Regions from separate parts of the Homo sapiens genome. Here region 1 is linked to region 2. The links come from fine-mapping of genetic effects on gene expression. A gene starts in region 2. The other region holds a variant in brackets. All regions are shown on one strand. Distances are between the middles of the regions. Region 1 overlaps DOCK1 (dedicator of cytokinesis 1). Region 2 holds the start of DOCK1 (dedicator of cytokinesis 1).

Region 1 (5,369 bases), 37 kb after region 2:
GGGGATGAACACAGGAGGGGACGAACACAGGAGGGGATGAACACCAGAGGGGATGAGCACTGGAGGGGATGAACACAGGAGGGGACGAACACAGGAGGGGACGAACACCTGAAAGGATGAACACGGGGGGACGAACACTGGGGGGGCGAACACCTGGGGGGACAAACACCGGGGGGGATGAGCACCGGAGGGGACGAACACCGGAGGGGATGAACACCTGAAGGGATGAACACGGTGGGGGGATGAACACCGGGGGGGGGACGAACACCGGAGGGGACGAGCACCGGAGGGGATGAACACAGGAGGGGATGAACACCGGAAGGGATGAACACTGTGCCCTCACATGGCAGAAGGGATGCAAGGGAAGGAACCCCCTTCCTTAAGCTCTTCTATAAGGGGCCTGATTCCATCCGTGAAGGTTTCATCCTCCTGATTTAGTCACCCCTCAAAGTCCCACCATTTAAAACGATGACATTGGCTATTGAGTTTCAACACATGAATTCTGGGGGACATCAGACCATAGCAGTAGCTTTGTACTAAATTTTGAAATCAGGAAGTGCAAGTCCGCTAGCTTTGTTCTTTTTCAAGATTGTTTTGGCTATTCAGGGTCCTTTGAGATTTCATCTAAATTCTAGGATGAATTTTTCTATTTCTGCATGTACCTGTTTACTTTTGCTGTATTTCTTAGGCTGGTAGGTTAAGGGACATCAGTGTTTTTACTTTAACTTAAAGTTATCTTTTAATTTTTCTCTCGTTTGTAGCAGCTTGATTTAGTAATCACTCACCTCAGGTGATCCTCCTGCCTCGGCCTCCCAGAGTGCTGGGATTACAGGCGTGAGCCACCGCGCCTGACCCAAAATACCTATTTTAGAAAACAAACTCTTCAGTCCAGATGAGTCCGAGTCGTCACGAGACCAGTGTTCTGTGATGGGCTGTAGTTCAGGGAAGTGGATTAGTGCTGCTGCTTTCATTCCTTTGGATGCTTTGGTTTGGTGTTTGTTAATCCCAGAAGTCAGATTATTAGGCCTTTCTGTATTTGGGTCCCTCTCTCGGCAGCTGTAAGTGTGACGCATGTCCCCAATGAAGGAGACTGCTTCCTTTGTCCTTTGAAGGCCACGCCTACCTTGTTGCCTGAATAGGAGCCTCCATGAGCTGGTGGCTGCATTTAGCCCTGAGTTGGGGCTGGCATTGGGAGAGTCTAGGGTAAGACAGATTTGGAGGAGAAGCAAGAAGGAGAAGGGTGCAACTCCTCTCTAGTGCCTTTCCAACCTTTGAGAATTGTTTTTCACAAATGATGTTTTTGCCTCTAATCTGGTTATTTCTTTGTAGTCTCAGTAATGGATAAGAAATTTGCCCTGTGAATTAATCACGGTTTACAGGGATGATGGCAGAATCAAAGTATTTGGGGATTCAGTGATTTGCCTTGCTTTGTAATTTTGGTTTAATTTGCAGTTGGGAGTTGATTGAGAATAATTTGGAATAAAACTGTTCTAGAAGGAAGACATCCATGCAAACCATTCTGTTTATTCTTTCAAACCAGGTGGTTTTCCATATTAGATGACAGGAGTCTGCAGCACTTCGTACTCAATATTCAGAGTATGTGTTTTATTTATTTTGTGGAGACAGGGTCTCTGTCACCCAGGCTGGAGTGTAGTGGTATAATCTCGGCTCACTGCAACCTCTGCCTCCCGGGTTCAAATGATTCTCCTGCCTCAGCCTCCCAAGTACCTGGGATTACAGGCGCCTGCCACCATGCCCGGCTAATTTTTGTATTTTTAGTAGAGACGGAGTTTCACCATGTTGGCCAGGCTAGTCTCGAACTCCTGACCTCAAGTGATCCACCCACCTCAGCCTCCCAAAGTGCTGGGATTATAGGCGTGAGCCACTGCGCCTGGCCCAAAGTACCTATTTTAGTAAACAAACTCTCAGTTCAAATAAGTCAGAGTGCCTTTTTTTGTAGTTGGCCAGGGTTTGTGTAATTAGTTTATCAAGTAAAATTTGACTTGTATTGACAAGAACTGGAGTTGTGATAGCAAACAGTAATTGCTAACTCTATCTTATCAGGGAAATCAAAAGCGTCTATTGAATTACAGTGACTCTATTATATTGCCCTGTAACCTCACCAAGATGATTCTTCGGAGGATGATTAAATGTAGTCATGAATCCATATATATGAGAAAGCAAACAGATGGATAAACAACCAAAGTAATTATCATCTGTACATTCACATTTTTCCATCACAATATTTCAGGGACCTGCTGGTCCAGAGTCATCTGTTTGGTCATTGTCTGGGAGGATGACATTCTTCATAAAATGTGCTCGGTTGGTTTATCTGCCGTGCAGTGTTACCAGAGGGCATTTCAGCTGTTTAAACTCCCAGAAAGTGTTGGTAGCTTCCTTGTTTTTATTGGTGTCTAGTGGACACAGGGGACAAGAGTAAGTTTGATGGGATGTATCCTGTGGTTATGAGAGGAGATGCTATACTGTGTAAAGAAACCTCTAAAAACCAGTTTAAAAAGATTGTTTTATGGATAGATTGCATTACCTAAATTCTGATGAAATATTTCATTTCATGGTGCTAGTTTTAACTTTAGTCTTTTAAAACACAAAAGTAAAACCAATCCAACAACAAAAACATCTTCAAAACCGCAGTTAAACAGCATCTGTGGGCCGGGCACAGTGGCTCATGCCTGTAATCCCAGCACTGTGGGAGGCCAAGGC[G/A]GGCGGATCACGAGGTCAGGAGATCGAGACCATCCTGGCTAACACGGTGAAACCCTGTCTCTACTAAAAGTACAAAAAATTAGCCAGGCGTGGTGGCGGGTGCCTGTAGTCCCGCTACTCGGGAGGCTGAGGCAGGAGAATGGCGTGAACCCGGGAGGCGGAGCTTGCAGTGAGCCGAGATCGTGCCACTGCACTCCAGCCTGGGCGACAGTGCGAGACTCCATCTCAAAACAGACAAAACAAAACAAAACAAAACAAAAAAAACAGCATTTGTGGATTGTACCTGTCTGAGTAGTGTATAATCACCTTTCCTAGACAACTTTGCCTTTCTCAGCCCGCCTTTGCAGGTGAGGTGCTCAGACTTAAAAGTCCCATGGGAAGATAATTTTGCCAATTATTCTCTTTTAAGCTGCTTTGTTTAAAGGATTCTAAAGTCACATCATGAGGAGGGGAGAGCCAAGAGGGTGTCGGATGTGTGTTGTCACTCTGATATTTGCTCTTTTTCTTTTTTTTTTGAGACGGAGTCTCGCTCTGTCGCCCAGGCTGGAGTGCAGTGGCACGATCTCGGCTCACTGCAAGCTCTGCCTCCCGGTTTCACACCATTCTCCTGCCTCAGCCTCCCGAGTAGCGGGACTACAGGCGCCCGCCACCACGCCCGGCTAATTTTTTGTACTTTTAGTAGAGACAGGGTTTCACCATGTTAGCCAGGATGGTCTCGATCTCCTGACCTCGTGATTCACCTGCCTCGGCCTCCCGAAGTGCTGGGATTATAGGTGTGAGCCACCGCGCCCAGCCGATATTTGCTCATTTTCTGAGTGTTTTGTGAGTCCTGAGGAATGAGCTCAAGGAGGAGATGGGTTCATTCCTTCTTCTAGGTTTCTTTTCGAGTGGGGTGAAGCTCACTTTTAGTTTCAGGTGGAAGCTGTGCACTGGATTCATTTGGGAGCAGGTTGGCAGGTAGAACAGTAGAATAAATCGTGAAGACCTACAAGCGTTAGAATGCGAGAGGAATGGATGGAGCTGCTCCTTCCTTCTGATTTGCAGGAAGTTTCCTTAATGGAACGAGCCAGCCCCGAGGGAGCCGAGCCAGCCCCGAGGGAGCCGTCATCTGGGACCCTGGGATCTGCGATGCAGCAGAGTTCCATTATCCCGTTTATTTTTACTGTAAATACACTCAATGTTACACAAATTCATTAAAAGATAAGCATGATCTGTCCTGTTGGGAAGCTTCTAATGGAAAGTAGGGGATAGCTGATGATTCCTCTGGATGGGCGTTTATTTGCAAGATGTTTCTTTCCAGAAAATGCTTAACTAGATTACATGTTTCATGACCTCAGTATAAATTCTTTTAGTTTTCCTGACCTTTTGTGATTTTAGTTACTATCCTAAAATATATTGATTTCTTTTTCTTGTTCATCTAGAAATGATCATTAAAAACAAACAAATAGGCCGGACGTGGTGGCTCACGCCTGTAATCTCAGCACTTTGGGAGGCTGAGGCTGGTGAATCATTTGAGGTCAGGAGTTCAAGACCAGCCTGGCCAACATGGTGAAATCCTATCTCTACCAAAAAAAAAAAAAGCCAGATATGTTGGTGTGTGCCTGTAATCCCAGCTACACTGAGGCAGAGGCAGGAGAATCATTTGAACGTGGGAGGCGGAGACTGCAGTGAGCAGAGATTGTGCCACTGCACTCCAGCCTGGGTGACAGAGAGAGACTCCATCTCAAAAAATAAAAACAAACAAATGAAAGGTTTAAGACCTTCTTTGAACCTGACTGCCTTACTTTCTTTGGCAAGCTAATTTTTCTGAGGTCAAGAGAGTAGGTGCTGGAACCAAACTGCTTGGGATCAGATCCTAGACCTAGCACTGGTTGACCTGAGGCAAGTTAATCTCTGTGTGCAGCCTTTCTGTTAAATGGGAGTAGTAATAGTGGTTGTAGCATAAGATTGAGGTTAAACGAGTAAGTGTATGTAAGCACCTACTGAATGCTATTTAAGTTAATGCAATCATTCAGTGGATTTCGGCTAAATTCATGCATTCAGTAAATATTTACCCTGTGCCTGCAAAATGACTGCTGTGTGCTTGGCCCTGGGATACAATAGGGACTGAAGTAGATATGGGGGATTGGCAAGTAAGTAGGCAGCCACAAGACAGCTGTGAATGGTAGGAGGGAGAAAGGACTACCAAGGGAGGCTTCCTGGAAGAAGCGGCTTTTTAAATAGGTGCTTTGAAGAGATTAGATATGAGTTAATGAGATGAAGAGGGGTAGGAAGGAGTAGCATCAGTTTAGCTGAGGGCCCTGAGGTGCAAGAGTGCACAGACCACTGAAGTTCAGTCTGGGTGAGTCGAGGCGAGGCTGGGTGCCAAGCAGGGTCGTCCCAAGCTGTCTGGAGGAATTTGGACTTAATGCTCAGAGCAGTGGCTGGTGATTGAAAGGTTCAGAGTGGATGATTCTTGAAGGGTCCAGAGCTATATCAGATTTTGTTGCAGGAAGAGTTCATGGGCAGTGGTTTGAAGAACGGGAAGGAGAGGAGACAGGTGATGGGGAGGCATGGCAGCCGTGCAGGGGAGGTGATGGGGCCTGAGTGGGGTTGATGGTGGTGGGGGTGGGGAGGAGCCAGTGGGTTTGAGAATATTAGGAGGATAA
Region 2 (5,369 bases):
CCCCAAAGCAAGATTCTGTTGTATCTTGGAGGAGGGGGGTCACTACTCTGAAATCCCAGTGATGGGCAGCACTGAGCAACTGAGAGCCTCAGCATTCTTGGGCTTGTTCACACCCACAAGCTTGGCACAGATCCAAGTCCTGCAAGATGCCTGGGAGGGCAACTGAGACCTGTGGCCCAGCCACATTGACTCAGGAGGTAAAAATGTCAACAGGCCACAACCTCCAGGGCTCCTGGAATTGGAGACGAAGCCAGTTCTGAGCTTATGCAACCATAGGACAGTGAGAGAGGGCCATGGACTCGATTTAGAGCCACAAGATGAGAGCACTGCTGGAGCACCGTGGGGATGCTGACAAATCTTCTCAGGGCTTCAAGGACCGTGGCTACAGGTACATCTCAGCCAAACTTGGGCACATGTTGCAATCAAGGGACTGAAGCTACAACCACCTGGCCCGTGGTCCACCTGGAGTTTTGTTTTGTTTGTTTTTGAGATGGAGTCTCACTCTGTCACCCAGGCAGGAGTGCAGCGGTGCGATCTTGCTTCACTGCAATCTCCACCTCCTGGGTTCAAACAATTCTCCTGCCTCAGCCTCCTGAGTAGCTGGGACTACAGGTATGCGCACCCACGCCCAGCTAATTTTTGTATTTTTAGTACAGACAGGGTTTCTACTAAAACCCTGGTTGGCCAGGCTGACCTCGAGCTCCTGACCTCAAGTGATCTGCCTGCCTCAGCCTCCCAAAATGCTGGCTGGGATTACAAGCATGGGCCACTGTGCCCGGCCCCACCTGGAGTTTTAAAATTCTGATTTATAAATTTATTATATGACAGTCTACCAAAAGTATGCAAATCCGGCACTACACTTATTTATGCATTCAGTGAGTCACCTTTATCTGAGTGCAAGTGGCAACTGTTCTAGAAAATGGGAACCATGAGGTTATCAAAGAACCTGGAGGTAGGGTCAGATGAGGAAGCACATCATTATGATGTCTTACACATGCAGTCATGTCTCCTCTTATAATCCTAAGACTCACCTGTGAGATTCCTATTACAGCCCCTAGTTTACATGTAGGAATATCAGAACCCCAAGGTTTAGAAACAGAACGGCCAGAAACAGGAGGAGGATGGCCATGCAGCTGGGCGTGGCAAGGCCAGGCCTCCCAAGTCTGCATGACTCTTAAGCTCCTGGCCATTCGTTACAGCACGCCATCTCCAATGCAGAATCACACCAACAGAACTGAAACTGCACATTAAAGAGAAGGCGAGTGTCACCAAAATCTGTTTCCCAGGCTTCTTTGCAGAATTCCAAATTCCTAGCACGACCAATAAGGCCCTTCTTCTACCTCTGCAGCCTCAATTTATGTCACTTTCCTGTTGTTCCCTATGCTTCGGCCATCCTGGCCTTTCTGTGCTCTGAAGGAGTGGTGCTCCTTCCTAAACCAGGGCCTTTTCACGTGCTGTTCCCACTCCAGTTCACCTAGCTGGTTTCTGCTTATCCTTAAAGTCTGGGTTTATCTTATTTCCTCAAGGGAGGCCTCCCTGCTCTGGAGCAGGTCAGGCCACCATGTCCTTTACCGTAGAGCACCCTACTTGTCCTGGACAGCACCTTCACAGATGCTTCTCCTTCAAGGGGTCAGAGTCACCAGGCCACCACTACAGCGCCTGAGCCCCGGAGGTTTCTGATTTCCACAGAAAGCTTCAAGTGCATGCTGTGTGTGAGTGAGCCTGGCCACTTCCTCTGTGGGACTTCAGTTCCTTATCAGTAAAACAGAGCCCGTGGCTTTCCATGAATGTGGGGTTGACTTACCAGAATGCTCAGGTCCCACGTTATCCTCTTGAACGCAGCAGCTTTCCTCTAACCCACGAAAATGGAAAAGCTCCTGTGCCATTCCCAAATACTTATTTAATCTGCATTCTGGGTGGCCCCTAGGGCAGGTGACGGGCATTCTCTACCGCAGGATGGTGCCCCACCTGGTCCTCCCCAGGCCCTGTGGCCATCCTGGCCACCTCCCTGTGGGCTCTCCCAGCCCTGCTGTTCAGCACTGTCCCTACCTCACAGAGGTAGGGACCTCTTTTTCTTACCTTCTTCCTTTTCTTACCTTCGTTCCTCCAATCCCTGACGGCCCCCAGACCTACTGTAGTTGTCTCTGTGTCTTCGGAGAGAAGACACCCCATTAATGTGCCATGAAACCAAATTTATTCCATTTAAAGGGCTGCCTTCATTCGGAGGCTTTGTCCATGTCTTGGTTTTAACCTCTCTTTTCTGAAATTACAGTAAAAATAAATAGGTGTGTGTTGCTTTAACTTTTCCCTTGGAGAAATCTGAAGCCCCCACCTTTTACTGTCATGGGAAACACCAGGGCCTGAGAAGAACTCCCACCTCGGGCGAGGATGCCGTTCCTGAGCCCCACGCGTGGCCTGGGCTTTCCTTTCCCTACTTCTCTCTTCCCCCGACTTCAGCAGATCCTGAGTCCCACAACTATTCTAGCATTAGCTTCTGCAAGCCCAGCTGGGCTGAGGTTTCTGCGGCTGCTTCCTCTTGGTCTCTCTGGAAAACTCCACTCATTCAGCACCCAAGCAAGAGGTCACCTGTCTGGAACGCACTCCCTCGGCAGCGCTGTGCCACCTCTTTCCACCCCATTTGAGTGGCCGGCACTTACCTGTGCTGTTTGTTACCTGACGTGTCCCTTCTCCCACCTACCAGGCAGTTGGTGCGGCGCTCCCAGCACACTCGGGCAATGAGTGGGCAGGCGCTCAGGTAACGTTTGTCGAATGAATGAATGAGCCACGTGCTCAGGAGGACCCTTTCCAGAGCCTCTGCTGGTTTGTTCTGCTCCGGGACTCTCCACCAGGGAGAAATCCGAGCTGGGGACCTCGCACCACCAGGCTCCGGCCTAAGCCCGCGCCTTGCAAGCCGCCCGTTTCCTACCTCCCGTAGAAACCCCCCGTCCGTCCCGCCCCCCTAAGGGCGCACCCCTCTCACGGCGTGAGCGCCAGCCCCGGGAGCTCCAGGAACTCAGGAGAACCCCGCGGGGGTGCCCGGGTGCGGAGCGCGGGGCTGGGCGCACTGGGACAGAGGAAGGGGAGCCCCGGCGACCGCGGGGTCGGGGCCCAGGGTCCGCGCCGAGGGCGGGCGCAGAGCCCGCGGCCGTCCCGCCTCCCGCCGGCGCTCCCGGCCTTTCCCATCCGGCCCGCGACGCTCCGCCCGCCCCGTCCCACATGACGCCGCCTCCGCCGCAAACTTTTTCCTCCCCATCCTGTCGCGGCTCGAAAGGAATGGAAAATGGCGGCCTAGACGCGGAGTTTCCTGCCCGACCCGCGGCGGCTCCGGCGGCGCCATGACGCGCTGGGTGCCCACCAAGCGCGAGGAGAAGTACGGCGTGGGTGAGCAGCGCCGCCGCCGCCGCGCCTCTCGCCCCAAGCCCAGGCTCCGGCGGGGCGGGTGTGCCGGGCGCCTGTTGCCGCCGCCCCGAGCGGCCGCCGGGCCGGGGAGAGGCGCTTCCGCCCGCGCCCGCGCCGCCGCCCCGCTCGCAATGCCCGGCGACCCCGGCCGCCCCGCGCCCCCGGCGGCGTCAGCTCCAGCCCCGGGGATGCGGGTCGGGAACACGAGGGGGTGGGGTGGGAATGGGGGCGGGCGCGTCCCTCCCTAGGGTGTCCCCTCCGACGCCCGCTCCTCTGGACCTCTGCCGTGGAGCCCCCCGGGCTACCCCCAACTCCCCGGCCCCGGCCGCTGCTATCTGCGCGGCTGGGCCCGTCAGGGAAGCCCAGGGGTCACTGTCTCGCGGCGGCTTCTGCTTCTTGGATGAACTTGCGTCCCGCGTCCGGGCTCTGGGTGGGCGGGCTCAGGTCGGCGCGGTCCCAGCGGATAATTCCGCCCTTTCCCGGCGGGGAGGAGGGGGCGCGACCTGGGTGGCCAGCGCCCCTTGCCCCTCGGCGGTCTCGCTGGGGACCGTGTGGGACCTTGGAGAGAAGGCGAGCGGCCGAGCGCCCCAGTGGCCCCAGGCCTGGAGACCCTTCCGGGAGAGCGGGGGCCTGTTTTTGCTCCGCGGCTCTTTGTCGCTTCCGAGGGGGGATGGAAGGAGTCGGGTTGCAAGTTTACATTTCGGACCCGAGTGCGCATTCCTGAGAGGGAGGCTTTCCCTTGCGGCTGAATAGACGGGCCCGTCCGCGTGGGACCCGCATCCTTGCGCCCCGGGGACCCGCAGCCGGTCGCCGAGGCCTGCGGACGCCCACCTCTTCGTGATCTGCGCGCCTGGTGTCGGGACTGGGCCGTGGCTACTCTCCTGCTCTCCCGGGTCCGGGATCTTCCCAGTTGGTTTTCGGGCTTGCTATTCCCCGTCCCACCATCCACAGACATCCTTGACCGCCTGCCTCATCCAGGCCACTCGACCCGACTGGGAAGACCTTTGGTGGTCTCGCCTCCCACAGCCCAGGCTGTGTCCTCCAAGGGCACCGTCTCAGCAGCAGCCCCGCGCCCATTCTGTGCCTGGCCCGTGCTGGACCTGCCCGACCCTCTGCTGGTGTGGTTCGAATCCTGGCTCTCTGACTTTTGGGAAGCGCCCTGGCAGCCCTTGTCCCCGGAGCGCTCTCCTTTCTGTGAACAGTTGCTTCTCTCTGCTGTCAATGACTTACAGTATGCCCTGACCACGGAGCCAGCTGGACAGTGGTCACGGGGACAGTCCTGGGACAGCCCTGGGTCCTACCGGGCCTGCACTTAGCTTGTTCCACATGCTGGGAGGCATAGGGGGCCTCCTTGCTTCAGGACCATTATGACTGAGCTTCCTCCCCATCTCCCCATTTTGCAGATGAGGAAACTGAGGCCCAGACACATTCACAAAAGTGCAGGAGAGCTCATCTGACTGCAGACTCAGTGTGTAACCTGCACCCTGTGCACCACCTAATGGATTCAGTCTGGGGCACTTGGCACGGGCCTTCAGTCTGCATCAGAGGCGAGAGGTTCGGGGTGGATATTCCACCTGAGAATGCTTGGGTTGTGGCGACAGTGGGGGTCCCTGCGGGGGTAGTGTGTAGAGGAGAGAGCTGAGGACTGACTCCCAGGGAACCTAGCACCAGCACACGCAGAGAGAGAGGAAGAGGTGGATAGGCAGGAGAGGCAGGAGGCTGGCAGAGGAGCAGGCATCCCATAGCCCTGGCCCTGCTGAGGAAGCAACTTAGGTGCCCATGGCCAGGGTGCAGTAGTGGCCATTGGGGGTGTAGTGGGGGCCATCGGGGTGCAGTGGGGGCCATCACTGCTCCCATTCTACAGAGGCAAGGAAGAGGTGGATTGCTTGCCTGAGGTCACATCACCAGTAAGTGGTGCCTCCTGGGTGTGAAGTGTGGCCGCCCTGGGTTCAGCTGCCACAGTGTCCTGT

The links. PIP is the estimated chance that this variant, and not a neighbour inherited with it, causes the effect.
Region 1: its variant is fine-mapped to the expression of DOCK1 in unexposed skin (GTEx, PIP 0.98).

What each region holds. Positions count from the first base shown.
Region 1 is chr10:126,938,807-126,944,175 of GRCh38, forward strand. The region is part of intron 1 of DOCK1 (dedicator of cytokinesis 1); the gene reads left to right. Among named protein-coding and RNA genes, the nearest start is that of DOCK1, 36 kb to the left of the region's middle. The variant G/A (reference allele first, on the strand shown) is at 2,722.
Region 2 is chr10:126,902,183-126,907,551 of GRCh38, forward strand. It overlaps DOCK1 (dedicator of cytokinesis 1), which reads left to right and starts at 3,246. Exons shown (of 52, transcript NM_001290223.2): 1 at 3,246-3,381. The coding sequence starts at 3,336. LOC105378550 (a long non-coding RNA gene) reads right to left here and starts at 3,196. Exons shown (of 2, transcript XR_946449.3): 1 at 2,378-3,196; 2 at 1-2,260. It overlaps LOC124900289 (a long non-coding RNA gene), which reads left to right and starts at 3,549. Exons shown (of 2, transcript XR_007062336.1): 1 at 3,549-5,369. RefSeq lists an enhancer at 4,267-5,015.